Linked DNA regions of Homo sapiens. The protein of the gene in region 1 interacts with the protein of each later gene in a pairwise test. Each region holds a gene or a part of one and is shown on either strand. Other genes may lie near its edges.

What was found.
Region 2: the proteins of KLHL15 (region 1) and DCLK2 interact in binary tests that used the Homo sapiens proteins (3 or more experiments, as listed by UniProt).

What each region holds. Positions count from the first base shown.
Region 1 is NC_000023.11:24,015,116-24,027,553, forward strand, and holds the start of KLHL15 (kelch-like protein 15), read right to left. Parts: upstream 12,072-12,438; 5' UTR 12,025-12,071; intron 9,944-12,024; 5' UTR 9,742-9,943; intron 1-9,741. UniProt on the Homo sapiens protein: Substrate-specific adapter for CUL3 E3 ubiquitin-protein ligase complex.
Region 2 is NC_000004.12:150,070,206-150,083,371, reverse strand, and holds the start of DCLK2 (serine/threonine-protein kinase DCLK2), read right to left. Parts: upstream 4,928-13,166; 5' UTR 4,345-4,927; coding exon 3,924-4,344; intron 1-3,923. UniProt on the Homo sapiens protein: Protein kinase with a significantly reduced C(a2+)/CAM affinity and dependence compared to other members of the CaMK family.

The DNA.
Region 1 (12,438 bases):
TTAGGTTGATTTTTCCTACTTATAACCAAGGGTCCTAACTAATAATTTTAGAACAGAAATATCTGTAAGTTACTCAAATTTTCTTGGCCTTCTCTCTGCATCTGTAAAAACAAGAGCACTAGACATGATCTCTAAAATATTTTTAGTCCTAAAATTCTCATTCTTTTTATATGATTTTGTAAATATGCAACACACTAAATACACATGCCAGTTAAATAAACTATAGCTACTTTTAAAGTCTCAGCAACGCATTTGTGAAGTTTACCTGATCTAAACACTTTTAAAACTCATCTGCGATAGCCGAGACATATGCAGTAACTTATTTTCTACCTAAAAAGCTTAGTGCATTTATCAATAAGACTACAACTTTAGAGGAGCAGCAGTACTTTACACTTTTATGGTAAGCGTGTATTAAGTAGAAAACAGTGAAACACTCAGTGATTAAGTGACCAACATGATAGAGTCTCTAGATGGTAGTAGTAAGTAAGGGTATAGGTCTGGCGTCAGATGCCTGGGTTTGAAGCGTGGTTCTACCTCTTATTAGCTCTGTGATATTGGGGCAAGCTACTCAGCCTCTCTGTGCTCTAAAATGTAAAATCTGGACCGGACACGGTGGCTCACGCCCATAATCCCAACAGTCTGGGAGGCCGAGGTGGGCAGATCACCTGAGGTCAGGAGTTCCAGACCAGCCTGGCCAATGTGGTGGAACCCCGTCTCTACTACAAATACAAAAATTAGCCGGGCATGGTAGCTGGCACCTGTAATCCCAGCTACTTGGGAGGCTGAGGCAGGAGAATCGCTTGAACCTGGGAGGCGGAGGTTGCAGTAAGCCGAGATCGGGCCGCTGCACTCCAGCCTGGGCAACAAGAGTGAAACTCCATCTCAAATTAATTAATTAGTTAATTAATTTAAAAAGTGTAAAATCTAAAACTTTTAAATTGGGGTACTTCAGGCCAGGCACGGTGACTCACGCTTGTAATCTCAGCACTTTGGGAGGCCAAGGCGGGCAGATCATGAGGTCAGGAGATCGAGACCATCCTGGCTAACATGGTGAAACCCCGTCTCTACTAAAAAATTAGCTGGGCATGGTGGCAGGAGCCTGTAGTCCCAGCTACTTGGGAGGCTGAGGCAGGAGAATGGCGTGAACCTGGAAGGCAGAGCTTGCAGTGAGCCGAGATGGTGCCACTGCACTCCAGCCTGGGCGACAGAGCAAGACTCTGTCTCAAAAAAAAAAAAAAAAAAAAAAAAAAAAAGGGGGGGTATACTTGGCCAGGTGCAGTGGCTCATGCCTGTAATCCCAGCATATTGGGAGGCCGAGGCAAGTGGATCACTTGAGGTCAGGAGTTCGAGACCAGCTGGCCAACATGGCAAAACCCCATCTCTACTACAAATAAAAAAAAAATTGGCTAGGTGTTGTGGCTCACGCCTGTAATCCCAGCTAGTCGGGAGGTTGAGGTGGGAGAATCGCTTGAACCCAGGAGGCGGAGATTGCAGTGAGCAGAGATGGCACCACTGCACTCCAGCCTGGGCAAAAGAGTGAGATCATGTCTCAAAAAAAAAATTGGGGTACTAATATTAATAGAACCTACCTTACAGGTTGCTGCGATAATAAAGTAAGTTAATGGATGTAAAGCACTTAGTACAGTGCATGGACCTTAAGTACACTGTAACATTAAGGCTTATTATCATGCCCCTTCGTGTGGTACTACTACAGCCAAAATAGTAAGCCTGATCTAGTTAACTTTGAAGAAACCCCCCAGCCCACCTTCTGAGTATAGTTTCTCAAGACTCAGGACCCAGGTCAACTCTAACTCCACAGATGAAGACAGTAATAATGTCCACGGGTGAACTGACTTTTTATTCAAGGTCATAGAACTAGTAGCTAGAAATAAAGTTAAGACTAGATTCTAGCCTGCGCAACATATCAAAACCCCGTCTCTACAAAAATTAGCTGGGCGTGGTAGTGTGTGCCTGTAGTCTCAGCTACTTGGGAGACTGAGGCAGGAAGATTGCTTGAGCCCAGGAGGCAGAGGTTGCAGTGAGCTGAGATGGCGCCATTGTACTCCAGCCTGGGCAACAAACTAAGAGCCTGTCTCAAAAAAAAAAAAAAAAAAATTAGATTCTATTTGCAAAAAATACAAAATAGTGTGGTCGGAAAGAGCAAAACCTCTGAAATCAGAGTGCTTACTGTGTGACCTACAGAAATTTTGTTAACTTCCTATCTTGGTTTCCATCCATACATTACTAATAATCATCATCATCTTATTATCAAGTTAGGGTGGTGAATAAATGAATTAACCTAAGTGAGAACCCTCAGTCTCCCCTCTCTACCAACCCCATGCCTCCCTAGGGTTTATCATAATGCAGATTTATAACAGATCAGAGTCAGGCGCAGTGGCTCACGTCTATAATCCCACCACTTTGGGAGGCCGAGATGGGCATATCGCTTGAGCTCGGGAGTTCGAGGCCAGCATGGGCAACGTGGCAAAACCCCATCTCTACTAAAAACATAAAAATTAGTCAGACGTGGTGGTGTGTGACTGTAGTCCCAGCTACTCAGGAGGCTGAGGTCAGAGGATAAACTGAGCCCGGGAGGCCGAGGCTGCAATGAGCTATAATCCACCACTGAACTTCAGCCTGGGCAACAGAGTGAGACCATGTCCCAAAAAAAAAAAAAAAAAAAAAAAAAAATTGTGTACATAATTCTTTAACTGGTTACAGCGGCCTCATGCCTGTAATCCCAACATTTTGGGAGGCAAGGCACGAGGATCACTTGATCCAGTTCAAGACCAGCCTGGGCAATGTGGCCAGACCTCTTCCCTACAAAAAAATTTTTTTAAATAGCAGAGCTTGGTGGCGTGCTCCTGTGGCCCCAGCTACTTGGGAGGCTGAGGCAGGAAAATCGCTTGCGGTGAGGATGTCGAGGCTGCAGTGAACCACGATGAAGCCACTGCATTCCAGTCTGGGCAACAGAACAAGGCCCTGTCTCTAAAAAGAAATCTAAGTACAGAATTATATCAATTTAAGGAAGAAAACTATTATAAGAACTACTTTGCAATGGCAGAGACAGCCGCGGCAGCAGTAGCGTGCTCAACAAGAAGTGCGTAGCCCCACTCTCCCAAAAGAAAAAAACGAATCATTGTAAAACACAAAAACCTTAAATAAGAACTCTTTAAATGAGTGCTGGAGGAAAAATTTAAGAGGCTTTGAGGAAAAACATTTACTGACAAAATGTTCAATGTACAAAAATTCTGTATCCTTACTTTTCATATATAGGTTTATCAACACTTTATACATGGCCTTCAGAATTTCAAATAGTAGGTTTTTTTTTTTTCAAGAGGGAAACCAATTAGACCAAATGACAAGGCATACTTATACTACCAGGAAAGAAATACTGAAGAACGTGTCTTGTTTCATAAACTTGGTACTGACTAAATAAAAGAAAGCCTCACATTTTTGTGCCTAAGAATGATTAGTATAGGGATTCTCAAAGCATGATCTGGGGACAAGTGAATCCAGTTGTCCTAAAAGATCCCAGTCCCCACTAAAGGGGCTTCCCAATGTCAAAATTATTATCCAAATAATTTTTTTAAAGTTATTGGTCAGCCGGGCACAGTGGCTCACATCCGTGATCCTAGCACCTTGGGAGGTAGAGGTGGGCTGATCACTTGAGCTCAGGAGTTCAAAACCAGCCTGGTCAATATGGTGAAACCCTATCTCTACTAAAAAATACAAAACTTAGCCAGGGGTGATGGCATGTGCGTCTGATTCCAGCTACTCAGGAGGGTGAGGCACGAGAATTGCTTGAACCCAGGAGGCAGAGGTTGCAGTGAGCCAAGATTGCGCCACCTCCAGCCAGGGCGACAGAGCAAGACTCCTTCTCAAAATAAATACATAAATAAAGAATAGTTATTTGTCTTTTTCACTTTCATTCTGTTTTCTAGAGGTTTACACATGGTATGTGATATTGCAACAGACTGAATGCAGAAGCTGATGAGAAGCCCATTGGCTTTTATTAAGCCAGATATTAAAGAGATATGCAAAAATTTAAAACAATGCCACTCTTTTCACCAAGTTCTTAACTGTTTTAGAAAAGTTATTTTTCATAAAAAAATGTTATTTAGGTTACCATGTAATAGAATTAATTTTTATTTGTTTATTTATTTTTTGAGACAGTCTCACTCTGCACCCAGGCTGGAGTACAGTGGCATGATCTCTGCAACCTCTGCTCCGGGGTTCAAGCGATTCTCCTGCCTCAGCCTCCTGAGTAGCTGGGATTACAGGAGCCCACCACCACGCCCAGCTCATTTTTTTATTTTTAGTAGAGACGGAGTTTCACCATGTTGCCCAGGCTGGTCTCGAACTCCTGGCCTCAAGCGATCCACCCGCCTCGGCCTCTCAAAGTGCTGGGATTACAGGTGTGAGCCACCAAGCCCGGCCCCCACTAATTTTTAAGAGTACAAATAAGTACAAAGAAGTCCTGAGACCACAGGCTTGAGAACAACTGAAAGTGTAAGAGATAAGTGACAACACACACACACACACACACACGTGCACGCACAAACCTCAACCTCTTCCTACCTCTGCCCTGGAAGACTATTACTGCTATTTATATCACAGAATTTTTGAACACTTCAAACTCTCTAGTGACCAGTAAAAAAAGAAGTTTGGTGGGGGTAAAACTGGACAGGAAATTAAAGGCAAAGAAATTAAATGCTTCCTTTTCAGTTATAAGGCTGCCATTCTGATGTGAAGGCAAAATTATAGGCAATTAAAAGACATTTCAAAATTAACCTCTATGTTTGTGCCATAAGCAATAATTTATTGCTTTCACATTCCTTCCACAGCTGCTTGAAAATTCATACAAAAGCTTAAGGTATTCAATGCAAAAGCTAGATTCTCAGAGGTTGATATAATATACTTACCCTCAATGAAAAATTTAAATGATTTCATACTATCTTCATCCCCAAACTGTTCTCCTACCAAAATTGATGCCTATGCAGAAAATGCCACAGTTGCATATCGAAAAGAGAATGCAAAGGCTTACTACGGATAAAAACAGAATTAATTTCTGAGTCATAACATTTCTCACTTCTGTAACCCATAAAGTAAAAAAATGTAAATTTGACAATCTCAAAGCAGCCAACTTCTCAACATACCAATATAAAAGAAAAGACAAATTTAAAGACAGACTTTTAAGCTCTATTAGCGGTCACTTTACTCTCAATACACTACTCAAATTGAAAACTCACTTTAATATGGGAGGAGACGTTGTGTAAGTTAACTTTAATTTGTTTAATACTGGAAATTCTTTCTTGTCATCAAAATATTTTTATAACTCAGGACCAAATTGCAAATGACCATTTAACTAAGCTATTAGGAGGGCCCTGGGTCCTCCAGCCTCCAGACTGGCACCAAATTACTTCACTTTTCAGGTATGTTTAGCATTTCGTCATCCTATAATACAAGAAGCCTTATAAGAAAAAAAAAACCCTGCTTGAATGCTATTTTTCATCAGAAGACTTTAATTTAATGCTTCTCTGCTTATTCCACACTATGACTAGAAGTAGTCCAAGAGTGATGTCATGGAAAACAGCTTCCCTAGCCTTTAGAGATTGGATCCAGTGAGAATTCTAGGAAAAGCCTCTATTGGGGAATAAAACCCCAAATCTTCTAAGTTCTATTCTAACATGAAATCACAAATACTGTAATGTTAGCCTTTCAGTTCCTCATAAGAATTATACAACCAAACTAAATATTTTGGAAAGTCTTGCTGTTATGATACAGATTTCCTGCAAATCATTAGTCTATAATATATATCATTAACTAAATTCAAAGATCTTATCAGAGACAAAGGGTATTTTTTTCTATCCATTCTTACATGTTTCAGTGATTGAGCCTGATGAGCTTTAAGGGTCTTACGTTAAAAACAGAAAACCTGACAACATATTTTGTCTTTCCTAATTTCTTACTTGCAAAGTTAAAATTTCAAATTCTGAAAAGGTCTTCCACTTTTGGACCAGCAGCAATACAACATATACCCTTGGCAGAGATGAACTATGAGAGCCTTTCCAATGATTCTTAAAATGGCAATAATAATAATCTTATATTACTATCTCCCTTGGTGCCGCTGTTCCTTGAAAACCAGCTACACTCCCAACTTAAGGCCTCTCTACACCCTGTTCCCTCTGCCTGGATCACACTATCCCCAGATATATATGGTTCCCTTAGGGTCTTTGGTGTCATTTCAGTGAGGCCTTCCTCAAACACCCTCTTTTAAAGTTGCAAAACCCCATCTGCCCCATCAACCTGACAATCCCCATGCCCCTCCACTTTATTATTCTCTGCAGTATATTAAATGGCAATACAGGCTATCCATTTTACTTAGTTTCCTTTCTGCTTCAATTTGTCGGTTTTGCTTCACTGACTGTTGCATCTCCAGCACCTAAAACAGTGCTTGGCACATAATAAGTGCTTAATAAATATTTGTTGGAAAGACAGATAAATTTAATTCTCGCAACCTTCCATGTTTTGTATCCATCCCCGACTTAAAGATGAGAACATCAAAGCTCACAGAGGTTAAGTAACTTGCCCAAGGCTATAATTATTAGTAAGTTGTGAAGTTGGGGTCTGCCTGACTTCATAGCCTCCCCTATTAAACACTGTTCTACAATGCCTCACCCATGGCTCCATCTTTCATTTCTCTTCAATAAAAAAAAAAAAGCACCACATGAGCTATAGCACTCCAATTCAGAGAAAATAGATGCTAATAAAGTAATCCACCTCCTCTAAGCTAAAGATTCATTCTCCTCACAGTTAACATTATTCACTCTCAAAACATTTGCACTGGGAAAGGCCAGGCTTGACAACAGGCCACCTACATCATTTGCGGGGACTCTTGTTCAAAATCAGGGAAAAATGTTGTTAAAAGGCTGGGCGATGGCCGGGCGCGGTGGCTCATGTCTGTAATCCCAGCACTTTGGGAGACCGAGGCGGGCGGATCACTTGAAGTCAGTCGAGACCAGCCTGGCTAACATGGTGAAACCCCGTGTCTACTAAAAATACAAAAATTAGTCAAGCATGCTGACGCGCATCTGTAATCCCAGTTACTCGGGAGGCTGAGGCAGGAGAATCACTTGAACCCGGGAGGCGGAGGTTGCAGTGAGCCGAGATCGCGCCACTGCACTCCGGCCTGGGAGACAGAGCAAGACTGTGTCTCAAAAGATAAAAAAAAAAAAAAAAAAAGGCTGGGCACGGTGGCTCCCGCCTGCGCTTTGGGAAGCCAAGGCGGGTAGATCACTTGAGTCCAGGAGTTCGAGACCAGCCTGGCCAACATGGTGAAACCCCGTCTCTACTAAAAATACAAAAATTAGCCGGGCGTGGTGGCGAGCGCCTATAATCCCAGCTACTTAGTAGGCTGAGGCCCAAGAATCGCTTGAGGCCGGGAGGTGGAGGTTCCAATGAGCGGGGATCGGATCGCACCACTCCACTCCAGCCTGGGCGACAGAACAAGACTCTTGTCTTAAAAAAAAAAAAAAAGTCGTTAAAGGTAATAAAATGTAAAGCTCTTTCAAAACTTTCTTCTGTATCTCTCAACTGTTTCGCGGTTTTTTTTTTTTTTGAGACGGAGTTTTGCTCTCGTCGCCCAGGCTGGAGTGCAGTGCCGCCATCTTGGATTACCGCAACTTCTGCCTACCGGGTTCAAGCGATTCTCCCGCCTCAGCCTCCCGAGTAGCTGGGAATAGAGTAGCTGGGATTACAGGCGCCCGCCACCACGCCAGGCTAACTTTGTGTTTTTAGTAGAGACGGGGTTTCTCCACGTTGGTTAGGCTGGTCTCAAACTCCCGACCCTCAGGTGATCCGCCCGCCTCGGCCTCCCAAAGTGCTGGGATTACAGGCCTGAGCCACCGCTCCCGGCTCTCAGTGTTTTTTAAATTTGATGTTTAATGTCGTTCTGAGTAAAGGAAAATTAAAAATTTAAATTAGCATGAATTTTACCATTCACCCTTATACTGTACAATCCCAGTTTTACATGCAGATTATTAAACCAAGTGTGGGGCCCTTCTGAACATCCATGAAGCCAAGCCTGCCCTGATCAAGGTTAGGTTTCTGAGATAACCCGACTCGAGGTAGAGAGAAGGTCAAACCTTGAAATCCCCAATAAAGCAATGATTTGTCAAAATTTTATCAAGATTAGTGATAAATCCAATCTATAAAACCAGCCACTTTGAAGTAGGCTCTTCCTTTTACTATGTAAATCCTGCCCAACTTCTATTATTTTGCCTTTTTACAAAACACAAAAGCATACTCTGAAAGACAACTGGTATTGGACTAGAGGATTATAAATTTAATAAAACATCTAACTACTCAAAACCATTTGTTAGCTAAAAATAACAATATACCCAAAAATGCTTCTCTTTTCACTTTTTGTGGACCATTTAAGCCAAACCATACTATATTTTTGATATGCCAAGTAAAAATGATCAATACTAATCTGTTACACATATAAATCCTGGCAAAATAAATTCAATTTTCAAACCACAAATATTTACTATCCTATTCTTTCCCCAAATTAATCAGCAATGAAGAGTGCAAGTTAACATCCTCTACCACTGATAAACTGTGACTCTAAGCACCTACTACGTGTTGTGATTAAAAATGAGAATAAAATTATATAATTACATTAAGTGCTAAAAAGTTGAAATGTTCTATACATTTCTAGATCTATTAAGGATTACTGAAACATGAATGCATTGATAAGCTCTTCAAAACCAATTTTCAAATTAGTAGAAGTATTCAAGCATCCTGCTCCCTAGATATGAAAAACAGGCATTAAAATTAGGGCATATATGTCTGCAAAGCATTTTCTAAATTACCACTTAATCAGATTAACAAAGGCAAACAAATTCGGAAAACAGAAAAGACTAACAAATGTAAGGTGTTAAATATTTGGAGTAAGAAAAGGGGCCTAAAGCGGCCTAGAACGATGAAAAGCAAAGCCCCTACGGTAACGTTACATTTGAATTAAAGAATACCGTTATTTAAATAAGCAGTTAGCACTTCGTAGGAGGAAGGCCAAGCAACGTGACTATTACAGATCTATGGATTCACAGCACTGCTTTACTATTATTCCGTACTTATTTGCTTATATTTATAATATAGAAATAAAGAGGCAGCAACAGTTAGCCACTACATTAACCACTCTACCAAAGGTTACTTAAAAAACGGCCTTGCATTCTTACAACACTCTACAGTTAAGGATTATTTTCACATATATGACCTCATATAGTCCTCTCAACCCTGCGATGTTGGTAGTACCGACTATATTTCATAGATAAGAAACCAAGGCTCGGTACGCGATTTTTTCTCAGAGTCACCCAAGTCGAACCCAGACCTTCCGATTCCTAGTTTTATGCCTCGCATTTTGCATAGTTCTATTTCAGGCATAAATTGAATTGTTAAAGGGAAGGAACGGGTTAGGCAAAAAATAATCATGGTACCTGCAGCTGTGTGCTGCAAAAAATGGCTGAATTATGCTTCTTCCTTTTTCTTTCTCGCTCTCTCTGGAAAAAAAAATTACATTTCAAACAATTTAAGTAAACTCGAAGACAAACGAGGTCCCGGCGTCTACCAAATGTTTGACTCGGGTCCGTGCAGAGAGGGCCGGCGAATTCGTGCCTAGCTCGGGGCCGCGGGCGAAGCCCGGGCTCCGCAGGCCGGCGGCCAGGGGCGGCTACGTACCTCGGGGGGTCCTGTCCAGCCTCTAGTGGACGGCAGTCTGCATCAGGAAGAACCGGGCCAGCGGGCCGATGGGTGGGCGGTCGGGCGCCGGGACGGCACTCGGCAGGCTCCTCGGACGTCTACGAGCAGCCGCTCCCGGCACGAGCCGGGTCGCTCCGGCGGGGCACGAGAGTGCTCGCCTGCAGCCCCCTCTGGATAAGTCCTGGGAAAGAAGACAGCGCTGAGTCGAGAAACCAGACAGTCGGGCTCCGCACGAGGCGGCGCGGCGTCGGGGCCCGGACCGACCTTGCCAACGCCGGGGGCCTCGCAGCACCCGACGGGGCTCGGCGGGAGGGCCGACTGGGGCCGCGGGCGGGGAAAAGGGCTGGGGGGCAGCAGGCAGAGACAGAAGCACCAGCCGAGGAAGCGTCGAGGACGGCGTCTCTGGGCTTCTGCCCCGAAGCGCGCCGAGCCTCGGGATCACCCACGCCGGGGGTGGAGGAAGGCGGGAAAGGGGCGGGGAAGGGGCGGGGCGTGCGGGGCCACGAGCCGGGGGCCGCTCCGGGCCGCGCGCCCCCTGCGGGCCGCGGGAGCCGCCCGGGGCCCGCCCAGGGAGGCGGGGCTGGCCGGCAGGGGGCCCAGTGCGCTGTCGTCTTGACGCGGAAGGCCGCCACGCTGGGAGAGAGGGCGGAGGGTGGGAAGCCGTTGGGGGCGGGGAGCTGGCCCGGGAGGCCCCCCCCTCGGCCCCTGCTGGCGCCCCGAGGGGGCCAGCCCGTGGCCTGGCGGGTGTTTACCTTCCCCCTGGTCGAGCGCCAATGCCGCCATCTTTCAGCCCAAAACGCGTCACTTCCGGCGCCACGGGAGCGGGAGCGGGTGTGGGAACGGGGGGGAAGGGGGGGCGGGGAAGGCTGTCCCGCGCCCGCGGCGCCCCGCGTCCCGGCTGCCGGCCCGCCACGCCAGCGGTTTCCCACCGAGGAAAACAGGCGGCCGGGCGTCGCGGCCCTGGACTGGGCCCGACGCAGCTTCCCCCGCGGCGCCGCCGTCGGGGCTGAGGACACTCAGCTGTCCTCGTCCCCTTGCAGCGGTCTCTCTCCGCCTGCACGAGCGATGGGCCCTGAGCCACTGCGGTGCGCCCACCCTCGACAAGTTGAGGGCTAGGAAGCCAGGAAAGTGTCTTTTTGCATCTTGGCCACGGTGGGGGTGGGGGAATCGGGGACAACGTGGAGGGAGCTTTTCCATAGCTACCTGTTATAAAAGTGACTAGATCTGCGCCAAATGACATCATTTTTTGTAAGGCAACTTGCAGTGGACTATTGCGTCACTGTCCACTTGGCTTACTGCACAACAATTACACGTTTCAGAAATCGATTTCCCAAGGGTGGGAAAATTCATAAAAAATTGCATGTCTGCACCACCCGGAGATAATGCCGGATTTAAAAAAGCTGTCTCTACTTGCGTCAAAATAATCAAGAACGAACATTCAGAGGGCAGTGATTTTTGTTGTTCGTTTTTTATAGAATTCTAGCTAGTACTTTTTAAATATTACCTTTTCTTGACAAGAATATAAAACTAGACTATAGGACTGTTTTGTAAATTTATTATGGCATCTCTTTCTGGGAAAAGTGTAGATGACGGAAATACACAGTTGGAAGCCCGTGGATCTACAATTAACCTTAAATTAGGGCATCCATTGCCCATAGCAGATCCTAAACTGAGGTATTTCGGCTTCCCCCACCCCCACCCCCCGCCGCCATTTTCTCTCTAGACCAATATCCCGATGAACTTTCCGTGAGAGGTGTCGCTAAAAGCGATAATTATCTCTTTCTAGCAAACTTGAACATACCATCTTTCCCAAGAGGCCAAAATAGCACACGGTGTACTGTTTTGCTGAAGTAGACTACTTCGTGGGAGAGATAACACAATCACTTCAATCTTTTGGAAATACGCTTCCTTATTCCGATTTAAACTATAACAAGCTTTAAAAAAACTGTAAGACACTGAAATTCCCAAGTTGTTCACACTTTCTTTCCATCTTTTCCAATAGCTCCTTTAAGATATTTCTGTTCATTATTTAAAAATCCCTGCTTGCCATATTTGTATCTATTACTACATGACAAATTACCCCAGAATTTCACATTAAAACAAATTTTTAAAATTAAATCATAAAATAAACTTTAAAAATGCATACATTCCACTTCTGAATATTTAAATGTTCATGCATTATTCCCGAACATCTAAACGCTGAGTTTGGATTTTTGTACATTAACTAACATTTTAAGCTATACATTACTATGTGGCACTGACCTGTCTAAAGAGAGGCTTCTGTTCTTGATTCAAGCAAGAGTTGAAACGTTTCTGCGCTCTTTGTACCAGGTATAAATGTAGTGAGTGTATGTCATAAGCCATTGTGTGATCACCGTGCTTCCCGTCCCTCCTTATTTTGACATTGCAAGGTCTCGTGGAATTTCAAATGTGCTTTTTTGGATATTTATGTAGTTTTAAAACTGGGCTGTGTCTTTCAATCAATCTATACGTTTACTATATGAACCCCTCCCCAAGTTATCTTCAATCAATGATGCCTCTTTCACTCTTATTTCTTATTTTTATGTTATTATTATTATTTTTTTTTTGAGACAGTCTCACTCTCGGCCAGGCTGGAGGGCAGAGGCATGATCTCAGCTCACTGCAGCCTTGACCTCCCGGGCTCAAGCAATCCTT
Region 2 (13,166 bases), on another chromosome or scaffold:
ACCAAAACTCTCTCATATGCCAAAAAACAATCAGCTTATTGTTTATGAAGGGATAAAAGGTAGAAATAACAAAATGACATTTTATTTTGGAATGAGAGAGGCAGACACAGGTAGCTCTTAATGCCTTTGACTCTTGGCAAGCACTTCATCAGAGATATACACCCCATTCTGTGATTGTTATCTGGACATGTGCAGCCTCATCGATTTTCTGGAAGATGGGTTCTGGCTAGGGAATGGCAGCCCAAGCCATCATATGCTCCAACAATAACCCCTCAGATAATTAACGGGTACATACACATTTTTAAACCAGAAGAGACCTAACTTAGGTGGTCTGCCAACTTCTCATCCTAGAGAAAAGGATGCCAAGGCCAGGGAAGTGAGGTGAAATTTTTCTCAAATCTAGTCAGTAGAACTCAGGAATCCTGACTTGGTCAGGCACTTTTTCTACTGTCCTTGGTTATATCTCTTTAGGTCATCAAAACTTTATAAATATTTCAAAATGCTCAGAAGGAGAGAAGACCAAACGCTCAGAAGGAGAGAAGACACACGGAACAGAACTAAGACTAGGAATTCTGAATCAGTCCCTAATAAGAAAGCTAAAGAACAAGTCATCTGGACATTCTCTGTTGGTTATTACAGATACTGAGCTCAGCAGGCTCACAGCTTAAGACAGCTCAACTAATTTTTCCAATATTGATTAAGAGCCACAGTCCTGCCGGAAGAGGTCCCCCAACTAGTTTTAAAGAATAAACAGGATTACAGGACTGCACAGCATCAACTCAAACTTAATCCAGCAAGGATGGATAAATCAATAAATTGAAGGTGCTTGCTGGTTTAGTGTAGTGCTGGAGGAGTGCCAGCTCACACTAGAACAGCTTTTAGTCTCCAGAGACTCTCAAGGTCAAGGGCAGAAGAAAAAATAATTTGGGCCATGCAAATTTCTTTTGTCATCTGAGTTCAATGAGATTGGGGCTCTGAATGAATGTTCATATCCTACTGTTTTGAGTCATCACTTTCTATTCTTCACTCAAGACATTTCAGAAAAAAACATACCTCTTAAACTACAAGTTTCATGGGATCGAAGAAGTAGAGCCTAGTTGAACATAATGTTGTAAAATACTACCTGAGAGAGCTTTATTAAAAATAATCAACCAAAACGAAATAAAGCAGTCAATTTTGACAATGTGGTGAATATATTACAGACTTATTTTTACTAATGCAAATAACTTCACAGATAGCTGCTTAGTTCTCCTACATGAAAAATCTGAGCACACAATTTTAATTAAAAGTTGAAACTACTTACATTCTGGAATGATTGACAGTAAGCATTCGTGATTCTTTTTCTTTTTTTCTTTTCTTTTTTTTTTTTTTTTTGAGACAGAGTCTTGCTCCATCGCCCAGGCTGGAGTGCAGTGGTGTGATCTTGGCTCACTGCAACCTCCGCCTCCTGGGTTCAAGCAATTCTCCTGTCTCAGCCTCCTGAGTAGCTGGGACTGCAGGCGCCTGCCGCCACACCCGGCTAATTTTTTTTTTTTTTTTTTAAGTAGAGATGGGGTTTCACCTTGTTTGTCAGGCTGGTCTCGAACTCCTGACCTCAGGTGATCCACCCACCTCAGTCTCCCAAAGTGCTGAGATTACAGACGTGAACTATTGTACCTATATTTTCTTTAAAAAAAAAATTGCATTGCTATGGAGTATTCTACTAATTTGGGGGAAAACTGAAGAATTAAACAAAGACCCATTGTCAGAGAGAGTTCCATATGACAAAAAAAGTGTCCAAGTTTTCTTCTTTTGCAGTAATTTTATTGTATTAAAAACTTCTTCAAAGAAGTGGGCAAAGTCATAAAAAAAATTTTGGCTGTGCAACTATTTGTTATATTATTTATCATATTTTGGTATGATTTGGACTCCATAGATAATGTTTTTTCCAAATCCCCATCCACTAAAAATCAGTGAATGATTTGAAGGAAATTTGTTAAGTCAATTTGTAGTTGAAACTACAGTTGCAGAAGTAGACCCAGTGGACATGCATGCGGTGGGCGGTAAAAGACGCAATCTATACTAAGTACTCCTATTAATGGACATGCATAATGTCCATCTTATCATCTCTCCTATGAGATTCATGTTTACGTTATGTCAATTTTATGTAGTAAATCCACTGTTAAAATTTCTTTAGAGAAGGATATTAACATTGTTGACTCTTAAGAAACCATACCAGGAACAGTAGTATCCCAATGGCATGTTGAGTAACAAGTGCTTAAGCAAACAGGCATTGCCTTGATCCTGCAAATCTGATCTTGGGTCAGTCAAACAACTGGTTACTCTGTTTTAAAATAGCTAGGCAAATATTGCTTTTAAGTGTTTAACATGATTAAGAAAAGCAACAAGGCCCTTTGAACATTGTATCTTCCTTTTTTACTTATACTCCTCCAGCTATCCCCTTACCTCCTCAAGAAGCCCTTAAAACCAAAACACACAACTGACAGAATGGGTGAAGTCACAAGCACATACATATGTAGACTGAAGAGACAATTTAATTTTGGCTGGGTCGCGTTCTAGGCAGGGCAGCAAAAACTTCTGACTAAATAGACAAACTCAACGACCTTTAGTTTTCCTCCATGTGGCTCCATTAGCTCAGCAGAGGTGAATCGTAGACGAGAAAGTATATGCTGCAGGCACTGTGAGGCAAGGCATGCTGCCTAAGTTTCCTCATCTATAAAATGGGGATAATGCCTTCAGGACAGAAAAGCATGCTGAGATAATATAAGAAAAACATCTGGCTTGATGTTCAGCTTCCTCTCCCTGCCAAGCTATTGCTATGACTACATGGAATGTGCCATTTGCATTAAGAAAGATGCACAAGAGCGGACTGTATGTAAACACGCAGTCAGCACATACCTGGGTTCTGCCTGGTCTTTCTGGATGTTATTTAGAACTGGAAACAGGTTCTTAACCACTGATAATGCCTTTTCTACCTGAAAAGGATGAGGCATACGTATTGCAGGAATTCAAGGATGACCCAACATCCAGCCAAGCAGTCTCTTTGACCGAGGCATGGTTGACACAGCAGAATTACTAATTTTTAATAAGTCCCCACTGCTGAATCCAATGGCCTCTATCATTCTAATTAGGTACTCTTATTAGAGGATAAGGCTGGAGAGATTGACCTTGATTTACCTTTTTTCCAACCAAATGTGGAAAACCCTTTAGCACGGTGATTGTTAACCAGGGTCCCACATTAGAATCACCTGGGGGGGGGGCTTTTGAGACTCCAGACGCCTAACCCACACCCCAAACCCAACCAATTTAATCAGGATATCTGGGGGTTGGGGGATCAGGGTCCCATATTTTTCGAAGTCCCCAGTGTGATCCAAGATGAAGCCAAGGTTGAGACCTGCTGTCTAGGATCATCCCTCTTCACCTCAAGTAACTTCTGCTGCAAGGCAAACTAGGAAAGCCAACCTAGAGCATTTCACAACCACAGCTTCTGACAGCAGTCACAACAGGACCCCGAATACTGGAACATGACAGGAGCCTGCACCAGGGTCCACACCGAGGGTCCAACAGAGCTTATTAGTAGGGGATTACCCAGCTCCCCATGGGAGAACCATTTTCTCAAACAGTTTGCACTTCAATACAAATAAGTTCAACAATCTTAGGAGATGCCACCAGTGCCTAAATTGGCCTGACCATCAGGAAATTTTTTCCTTCTTTAAGAGACAAACCTCTTGGGAAGGAAAGTCAGTGTGTATGTGGGCACCCCACCGGCCCCCACCCCCAGCCAATCTCTAGAGAAGCAGACAGAAGCATCAATTCCCGTGCGGCTTGGAAAGCACCCCGCGGGCTCCCCGCTGCGCCGGCTCACGCCCACTGCACCTGCCGGCGCTCCGCCGCACCTGCCGTGCGGCGCCCTCCCCTCCTACCTTCCAGCAGCTCGTCCAGGCTGGTGACCTTCCGGCTGCCGTCGATGGTGTAGATAGTGCGGACACCCTGGGGCAGGTTCACGTTGTCCGACAGGGAGCGGGTGAGCTCTATGAGGAGCGCATCGAAGGACCGGAAGCGGTCGCTGGAGATGGCAAACACCAGGCCCTTGAAGTAGCGGTCCCCGTTCCGGTAGAAGCGCGCCTTCTTGGCCTTCTTCTCCGAGCTGAGGGCCTGCAGGGTCCGCGTGCGGTAGAAGCTGCAGTGGGCACTGTGCGCCGGACTGGGGATGAGCCCGTTCCCCTTGGGGCCCGAGCTGCTGCTGCCCCCGGAGGAGCTGGGGGCCCCTCTCCGCGACCCCGGCCGCGGCCTTTTGTCCCGTTCCTCAAAGTGCTCCAGCTCGATACTCCTGGTGCTGGCCATCGCGGCTGCTCCGAGGGCGTCCGCAAAAAGACGTTCCGGGCCGACTAAGGGTGCGAGCGCCGGTGCAGGGACGTCTGACTGCGAGGGCCCTTAACGCGCCGGGACACCTGGCTCTGGCATCCCGCCCTCTCCGCGCAGGTGGGGCCGAGGAGCCGCGGAGGAGCCGACCCGCCCGCGCCCTCAGCTAAAAGTGTCCGCAGCGCCGAGCTGCCCAGGTCATTGTCCAGTGCGACTTGCTCCGTGCCTCCCGCCTGCCGGGGAGCCCCACGCCCCCGCAAGCGCCTCCTCCACCCGGCCACGCCTCACAAGTCCCGCTCGGGAGCCGACCGGGAGAGGCAAAGTTGGGCCGCCCGAGGCTCGCGCTGGGCCCGCGGGCGCCCACAAAGCTCGGGCGTCTGCCGAGCGCTCCCGGGAGCGCCGAGGGGAGGAAGGAAGGAAGGGTGGGGCGGGGCGCGGAGCGTGGGAGAGGCCCCCGGGGGAGTCGCGCGGGCCCAGGCCCGGGGTGCAGCGCCGCCGCCTCGGCCGCGCCCGGATCCCGCCCGCCGGGCAGCGCGCGCCGTTCGGGGCTGAGAGGGCCGTGTCTGGCCCCTTCCTTCCCTGGAGCGCGGCCCTAGCGGGAAATAATGCAGCCCGCCTCCCACGCAGCGGTCAGGCCCGGCCCACTGGCAAGCATCCGCGCTCTGGCCTCCCTCCGCCGCCGACAGGCTGTCAGCGCTGGAGGAGGCTTCCCGGCCCCGGGGATGCCAAACCGCGGAGAAGGGGAGGAGGGGGCGGAGGAGGGGGCGGAGGAGGGGGCCGAGCGCCGGCGCGGGAGGAGCAGCTCCTGCGGGTCCCGGGCAGCCCCGCCCGCCTGACGGCTCCTGCCCGGCGCCGCGCGTTAATGGGCGCAGCCGCGACGCGCGCTCCTCCGCCTGGGAAACGTAACCGCGCAGGCCAAAAACTACAAAGGAAGGAGATTCAAGGGCAGGGAGCACATCCCCAGCCAGCATCCCAGTGAGGACCCCAGGCCAAACTACCGCAGAAATCCGAAGCCCAGCATTGACTTGGGGCACACCATTCATTTTTTTTAAAAAAGATTTGTTGCTTTATTAGAAAATCCTTTGAGAAAACAGCCTCCACTGTTTCCATTGCAGATTCGCTAATATGGTACGTTCAGTAACTTTGAATGAATGATGAGAAGTTATTGGGTGGTAGAGGGGGTTATGTAATCAACGAATATTTATCGAGAGCGTACCATGTGTCAGGCATTGTTTCTGTCACTGGGATGCCCTAACAAAGGAAAGAGAGACTCTGCACCCACTCCCCCCGCCCCGCATATTTAATGTTGTCAATTAAAGCTTCTTACCTAAGAGGCCTATCATTTGTGAGCACCCATCATAGTGGAAATCTTAATGCCGTAGTGTCTATTCAACAATAAAAACATCTTTTCCAAGACTTAAGAGAAATACTAGTTACTTGCATTTTGTTATTAGGAAAAATAAAGCTCAAATATGTTTGATCCCAATTTGGCACGTGAAACCTTAGAACATTCAACACCTGGTTTTCTGAGCAGCCCTAGACAGCAATCCAAACTGACCTTTCAGGAAGAAAGGCATAGTTGCTTTTTTTCGGGTTGAACTGAGTCCTGGAAGAGCATGAATAAAAGAAGGTAGAAGCACATGCAACGGTCTAGCATCTGTGAAGTTGGTGCGCCCCACCAAACACACGCACACACACGCATACACACCCTTCATGGCAGCTCCAGAAAGGTCTCCTGCTCGGTGCACAATACTACTCCTAAGGCAGTTCTGGGCATACACCTGGGCATACCTAACTTCCTGCGGGGTTGGGGCATGCTAGGAAGTCAGAGCTGATCTGAGGCTTCAATGTAGTTTTTCTAGAGGAAAATCCTGCAGCATCATTAGGTCCACCACCTTAAAAGGCCTCAACCTAGATCAGTTAAATCAGAATTTCTGGAGACGGGCTTCTCCAACAGTATTTTTTTAAAAGTACCCCTAAGGTATATCCAGAGTTTCCAACCACAGGCTGTAACACCAGGAATCAAATAAATCAGTGCTTCTTCTCAAACTTTAATATATTTACATGTCATAGGGGAATCTCGTTAAAATGCAGATTGCTATTCTGTAGCTCTGGGGTGGAGTTTGAGATTCTGCATTTCTGATGAGCCCCTGGGTAATGCCAATGCTGCTGGTCTTGGTACAAGACTTTGAGAAACAAGAAACTAAATTGCAAATTTATTGAGATAAGTTTCCATCTAAGTACCAGTAACTCCACAGAGCCCATCAACTTGCCTTAAGATGGCCATGTTCATTTGTATCACTGTTAGTATTTCTTAGGGGGAAAAAGACTTTGTAAACTATTGCTGTAGAAACAAATTATCCTAAACTTAATGATTTACAACAATAAACATGCATAATCTCAGCATTTTTGGCAGATCGGAAATCTGGGAGCAGTTTACCTCAAAGCCTCATGTGATTGCTGTCAAGATGTTGACAGGGGTCACAGCCATCTAAAGGCTTGACTGGGTCAAGAAGATCCATTTCCAAGACAGCCCATTCACATGAATGGTAAGGAGGCCTCAGTTCCTTGTCATGAGTACCTTTCCATAGAGTTGCTTAAGTGTCACCATGACTTGTCGGTTGGCTTCCTCTAGAGCAGGGGTGTCCAATCTTTTGGCTTCCCTGGGGCACATTGGAAGAAGAATTGTCTTGGGCCACACAGGAAATACACTAACATTAATGATGGCTGATGAGCTAAAAAAAAAAAAAAAATCACAAAATCTCATAATATTTTAAGAAAGTTTACGAATTTGCATTGGGCTGCATTCATAACTGTCCTGGGCTGTGTACAGTCCACAGGCCATGGGTTGGACAAGCTTGCTCTAGAGAAAGCATCCAAGAGAGCACAAGGTGGAAGCCACAATGTGTGTTATGATATAGCCTTGGAAGTCATACACTGTTATTCCCACAATATCCTGTAGGTTACACAAGGCAGCCCTGTTTGATGTGGGAGGAGACTACACTAGGGTGTGACTAGGAGTCAGCAATTATTGGGGTCATCTTGCAGACTGGTACCACGGGTTTCAATCTTTCAATCTTTAGAACACTAACATGCACTTCCTCACTCAAAGATCCTTGATAAGAGATTTGGCCCTTCTTAAATAGTGAGTACAATTATACAATATGCCAGTATTTTTAACTCAAGGTGGATTAAAGACTTAAATGTAAAACCCCAAACCATAAAAACCCTAGAAGAAAACCTAGGCAATATCATTCAGGACATAGGGATGAGTGAGGACTTCATGGTGAAAACACCAAAAGCAATTGCGACAAACGCCAAAATTGACAAATGGAAATAAAGAGCTTCTGCACAGCAAAAGAAACTATCACCAAAGTAAACAGTCAACCTACAGAATGGGAGAAAATTTTTGCAGTCTACCCATCAGACAAAGGTCTAATATCCAGAATTTACAAGGAACTTAAACAAATTTACAAGGAAAGAAACAACCCCATCAAAAAGTGGGCAAAGGATATAAACAGACATTTTTCAAAAGAAGACATTTACATAGCTAACAGACATATGAAAAAAAGCTCAACATCGCTGATCATCAGAGAAATGCAAATCAAAACCTCAATGAGATATCATTTCATGGCAGTCAAAATGGTAATTATTAAAAAGTCAAGAAACAGTAGATGCTGGCGAGGCTGTGGAGAAATAGGAACACTTTTACACTGTTGGTGGGAATGTAAATTAGTTCAACCATTGTGGAAGACAATATGGCAATTCCTTAAGGATCTAGAACCAGAAATACTATTTGACCCAGCAACCCCATTACTGGGTATATACCCAAAGGAATATGAATCATTCTGCTATAAAGACACACACACACACGTATGTTTACTGCAGCACTGTTTACAATAGCAAAGTCATGGAACCAACCCAAATGCCCATCAGTGATAGACTGCATAAAGAAAATGTGGCACATGCACGCCATGGAATACTATGCAGCCATAAAAAAGAATAAGATCATGTCCTTTGCAGGGATATGGATGAAACTGGAAGCCATCATCCTCAGCAAACTAACACAGGGACAGAAAACCAAATGCCCCATGTTCTCACTCATAAGTAGAAGTTGAACAATGAGAACACATGGACACAGGGAGGGGAACAACACACACCAAGGCCTGTTGGAGGGTGGGGTACAAGGGGAGGGAACTTAGAGGACAGGTCAATAAGTACAGCAAACCACCTTGGAACACGTATACATGTATACCTTTGCACATTCTGCACATGTATCCTGGAATTTAAAGTAAAATTTAAAAAAATAAAAATATGCCAGTATTTTAACATTATTCCCTAACATTATATCCTTAAGTTAAAGAAAGGTTACTGCTTTTCAACAGGGGTAGGGGGAAAAGAGAAAGTATTTCCAAAGCTGTTACTTAGTTAAAAAATGTTTTTTTGATCCTACTCTCCACACTTGTTTTCTTGAAGAATCTTATTTGTGATCCTCTTATAAGAATTGAGATGCAATCACTTTTCATAAGGTATCTATGAAAAAATATGATATAAAGACCCAGTTGGTCAACATTTGAAGATTTGTTGAGGTAGGAAAAAATTAGTTTCAGTATTCAAATTCTAATGCAAACAAAATTTGTAGGTTCTAGGTAGGCAACTATTACTTAACTTGGCTTACTTCATGATATTCAATTTATAGAACCGAAGCAGATTTTTTTCCTTTCATGCAGTTGCAGAATTTGCAGAGTAAGACATTTTAATGGGCATTTTCTTTGTTGAGATACTCATTTTTTTCTAACGAAGAAAGGCCATCTGATTATTAATCATTGGTCCTTCCAGAGATGGTCTAATTCTCTTGGTGGTTACAAGATCCACCAACTCTGTCTGCCACACCCTGATTTAAGGAGCTTCTTTAGGAAGAGCTGGCCACAGATGCCTCCTCACTATCTGGAAGCCCACTTTAACCTTAGATGTCTCTTGGTTGTAAAAAGTGTTGTTAGAAAAACCCTCTTTTTAACTCCCCTTAACCTAACACTTACTTGAATAAAAACTTTTGTGCCAAGTATTTTTAAAAAGGCTTCATTTTTCTGCTAAAGGCCATTGGAGAATTTCAGCCCAAAAACTCTTCTCCCCTTTTTGTGTAACTAGAAATGACCCCTTTTGCTTTTTATTTATAATACTTATAAATCATGGAATATCTAGTGGATGTGAAAATTTTGTTGGCAGTATGCAAGAAGGGTCTTCTACAAACCACTTGGGGCAGAGAAACTCAACTGGGCATAAAGGAAAAGAAATTGTTCTCTTTGTTCTCTACACTTCTCTTTGTATCACACACCTGTGATACAATTTTAGAGCTGCTTTTAGCCAGGTAGTAATTCCCTCTCCTGCTTACTCCCTCAACCCCACTCCACCTTGACTAAGAAATACAATGCAAATTTTTATCTAGCATAATTTGTTTAAATGAGACTTTATTAAATATTTCATTATGGGTCTTTACATAAGAAACTTGCCTTGAACATTTCCTGGTGTTTGCCTCATGCTGCTTTATTCCTCAAATGCTATGGTTAGTCTTCACTTTTGGCAAGAGACTTCTGTTTTTAAAGGCAGTTTTCCAGTGACTCCATTACTTATTACATAAAGGATGCCTCTGAACCTTTCAGATTGCACTGTGCTGAGACTTTTTGCTGTCTCATGTTTTCATTCCTGTTCACTATGTGCCAAGAATTTCTCCCAGAAGTAAAAAATGATGAAATAACTAAACTATTTTAAGTGAGAGCACCCGGTGACTATAGACTTAAATTTTTGAAACTAAGCATGATTCTCATTTCAATCTTAATAATTATAAGTTCTAGTGCTTTCTGTTAAGCTTTAATGGGGAAGGGTATAAGGTAAGGCAGCTCAAAAGCAGACTCTCCATCTCTACCCCATAATCTGTACCTAGACTGGAAAAAAGGCTCAAACTGTTTTCTCAATAGTTCTTCTGCCTTTGGAGCTTCGTTGTCCTTTTCACCCCTGATTCTTGTAGCACTTTACATAGATATTAATGATTTCTTCACAAATAAGTGAGGGAATAATTGAAACTACCTTTTCAGGTTCAAAAAATTTGAATGTACCTGTTTGGTTAAGTCTTTCAGAAAATCTAAATTTTGGCTTGTGGCTCATGCCTGTAGCCCCAACACTTTGGGAGGCTGAGGCGGGAGGATCACTTGGGCCCAGGAGTTCAAGACCAACCTGGGCAACATAGGAAGATTCCCATCTCTACAAAATATTAAAAAAAAAAAAATTAGCCCGGCGCAGTGGTGCGTGCCTATAGTCCCAGCTACTGCAGAGGGTGAGGTGGGAGAATTGCATAAGCTCAGGAGGTCAAGGCTGCAGCAAGCTGTGATTGTGCAGCTGCACTGCAGCCTGGGTGACAGAGGGATGAGACTCTGTTCTTGAAAAAAAAAATTGTAAGTTTAATTTTTAAATGAAAATATCAGAAGAATTGAAGAAAATAATCAAATATGCATGCTTTAAATATATATGGCACACAACTACTGTTTTTTTCCATGAGAAAATTCTGATTCTTTCTATGGTAAACTTCCATAAAGTGTCTAGGACAAAGACTCCATACATATAATGTAAATTTATATGTCATGTAAATTTTATATATTCAAAATTATATTTTTATTTTGTCATTTGCCAGTTCAGATGCAACAATTATTGATGAAAAATAACAACTTTAAAATCATATAGCAACTTTTTTCTTAGGAATTTGAATTTGTTCCTCTTAAATCTTCGTAAGAAGAAAATCTGGGCAACTAGTAGAATTCATACTTTCCAGATGAGGAAATCTAGGCATAAAAGTGAAAGATCATGAAAAGTACCACAGTACTCTCATTTTGTTTCTGTAGGATGAAATTTCCCAAACCCAATATAAAATTTAATCTTTAAATCTAGGTTTTTTGCTTCATTTAAAATTTTAAAAAATTATTTTTGTTAAAATTGATCATGATTTTAGTGGTTTTCTCCTCTCGGTAGTACCTTCAATGTTTATACAAATACTGAATGTGACAAACTATGTTCATGTCATTCTACATATCAGATTAAAACAATGATGGTCAAGAGTACTTAAAGGATAATAAATATTTTATAATGATTAATAAGTTGTTATGACCTAGTTAAGGAAACAGATTATAGACAAGGAAATAAGAAAGATTAAGCAGCAGAGATAGAAATTGCCTCCAGGGTATGCTAACTCCAGAAAATGTTCACTTCAAGCTTTCAAAATTCATTAATCACAAGAATGTCTGTCTCTTCAGGAATTATAGCTTAAAATTAATGATTCTTTAATTTACAGTAAGTTTATATTGCAAATTATCTGGTTATTTTAGGACAAACATTCTGTATACCCTACACACACATATTTGAAATAGTCAAATGTTAAAATATATATATCTTATTAATGGGAATAAGGATCTACTCAGACTTTAGTCAACACTCCTTAGCAAATCTGTACTCATTTGGCTATGTATTTAGTTTTTTTTTTTGTTTTTTAGTTTTTCATTGGTACTTCCCAGAGTCCTATCACCCTATCTGAAATAACTAATTGATCATGATTTACCGTTTGTATGAAAGATACAGCAGAAACACTGTGTGTGTGAATATATATATGTATCTGAGATTAAACACTTAAGGCAAAGAGATATATGCATGTGATTACCTGATTGTTTTTATCTTAATGTAACTGATATGTTCATCTTTAATAACTTGGTTATGATATAAAGCTACATTTCATTTTAGTATTAAAATTAATTATAATTATTATTTATTATTATTACTATAATAATAATATTTTTCTCCTTGGGCATTCTCCCTTTAGTGATAAGCCCATGAACCCCTAGGATCTTAGTTGGTTCAAAATCTTAGCCAATATCCTCATGAAGAAAAATCTCTAAAATGAGTCAGTCCTCCAGGGACCTCTGTTTCAGCTCCCATTGCTGTGTCAGTGCCCCACACTGTCTGACACCCTCTTCTGACCAATGCAAGTGCTGGAACTGTAGGCCCGGAAACAGTTTCAGAAGGTATGGAGAAGGAAGGGTTTTCCCCAACCCCCACCAAAACAAATAAATAAAATAAAGTCATCGTGCCAACTTGCTATACATCTACTAACTGGAAAGAAAAATCTGTTCCAAGGTGTTTATCTTCTTTACCACTTAGACATGGAATGATTGGTTTTGGCCTTTAGGTTATAGAATTGCAAATACATAGAAAATAGGCTATGTTGAAGTAATTACAAGAAATTCTCCTTTAAATTCTTACTTGTTAAAAAGGACTATCTTAATGTCTTCAGCGTTCTCAGATTTCTTTAATAGACCTGGCACAACCAGAATATGTAAACGATAGGTCCCATAACAGTATGGAGATACCATAAACCACTATTAATAGCCTAGTTGTTTTTCTTGGAGTTGTCCTGAAACTACCTACTTCATTTCATGTCATTTACCAGCTTGGTCACACAATTCAGTGGGAAATTCTGAAAGTCACTTGGAATGGTAAGTGAGGCAAGGCCAGCAGAGAAATGCAGTATGGAAGCCCTGATCTGTCTCTACACACAACTGCTTTATATTTTAATAAATCTTAATTCAAACAGTGTCTAAACTTTTGCTGTTAGACGTGTTGTTTGAATGGATGATAAAATTAGTCACCTTTTCCTTATTACTGGTATGGTCAAAGACTTTCCCTGGAGCAAAAGTTTTACCCTAATGTGGGTTTTGTTAGGGGTGATAAAAAGTTGTTTGCTGAAGTTAATTTAAATTCCTCCA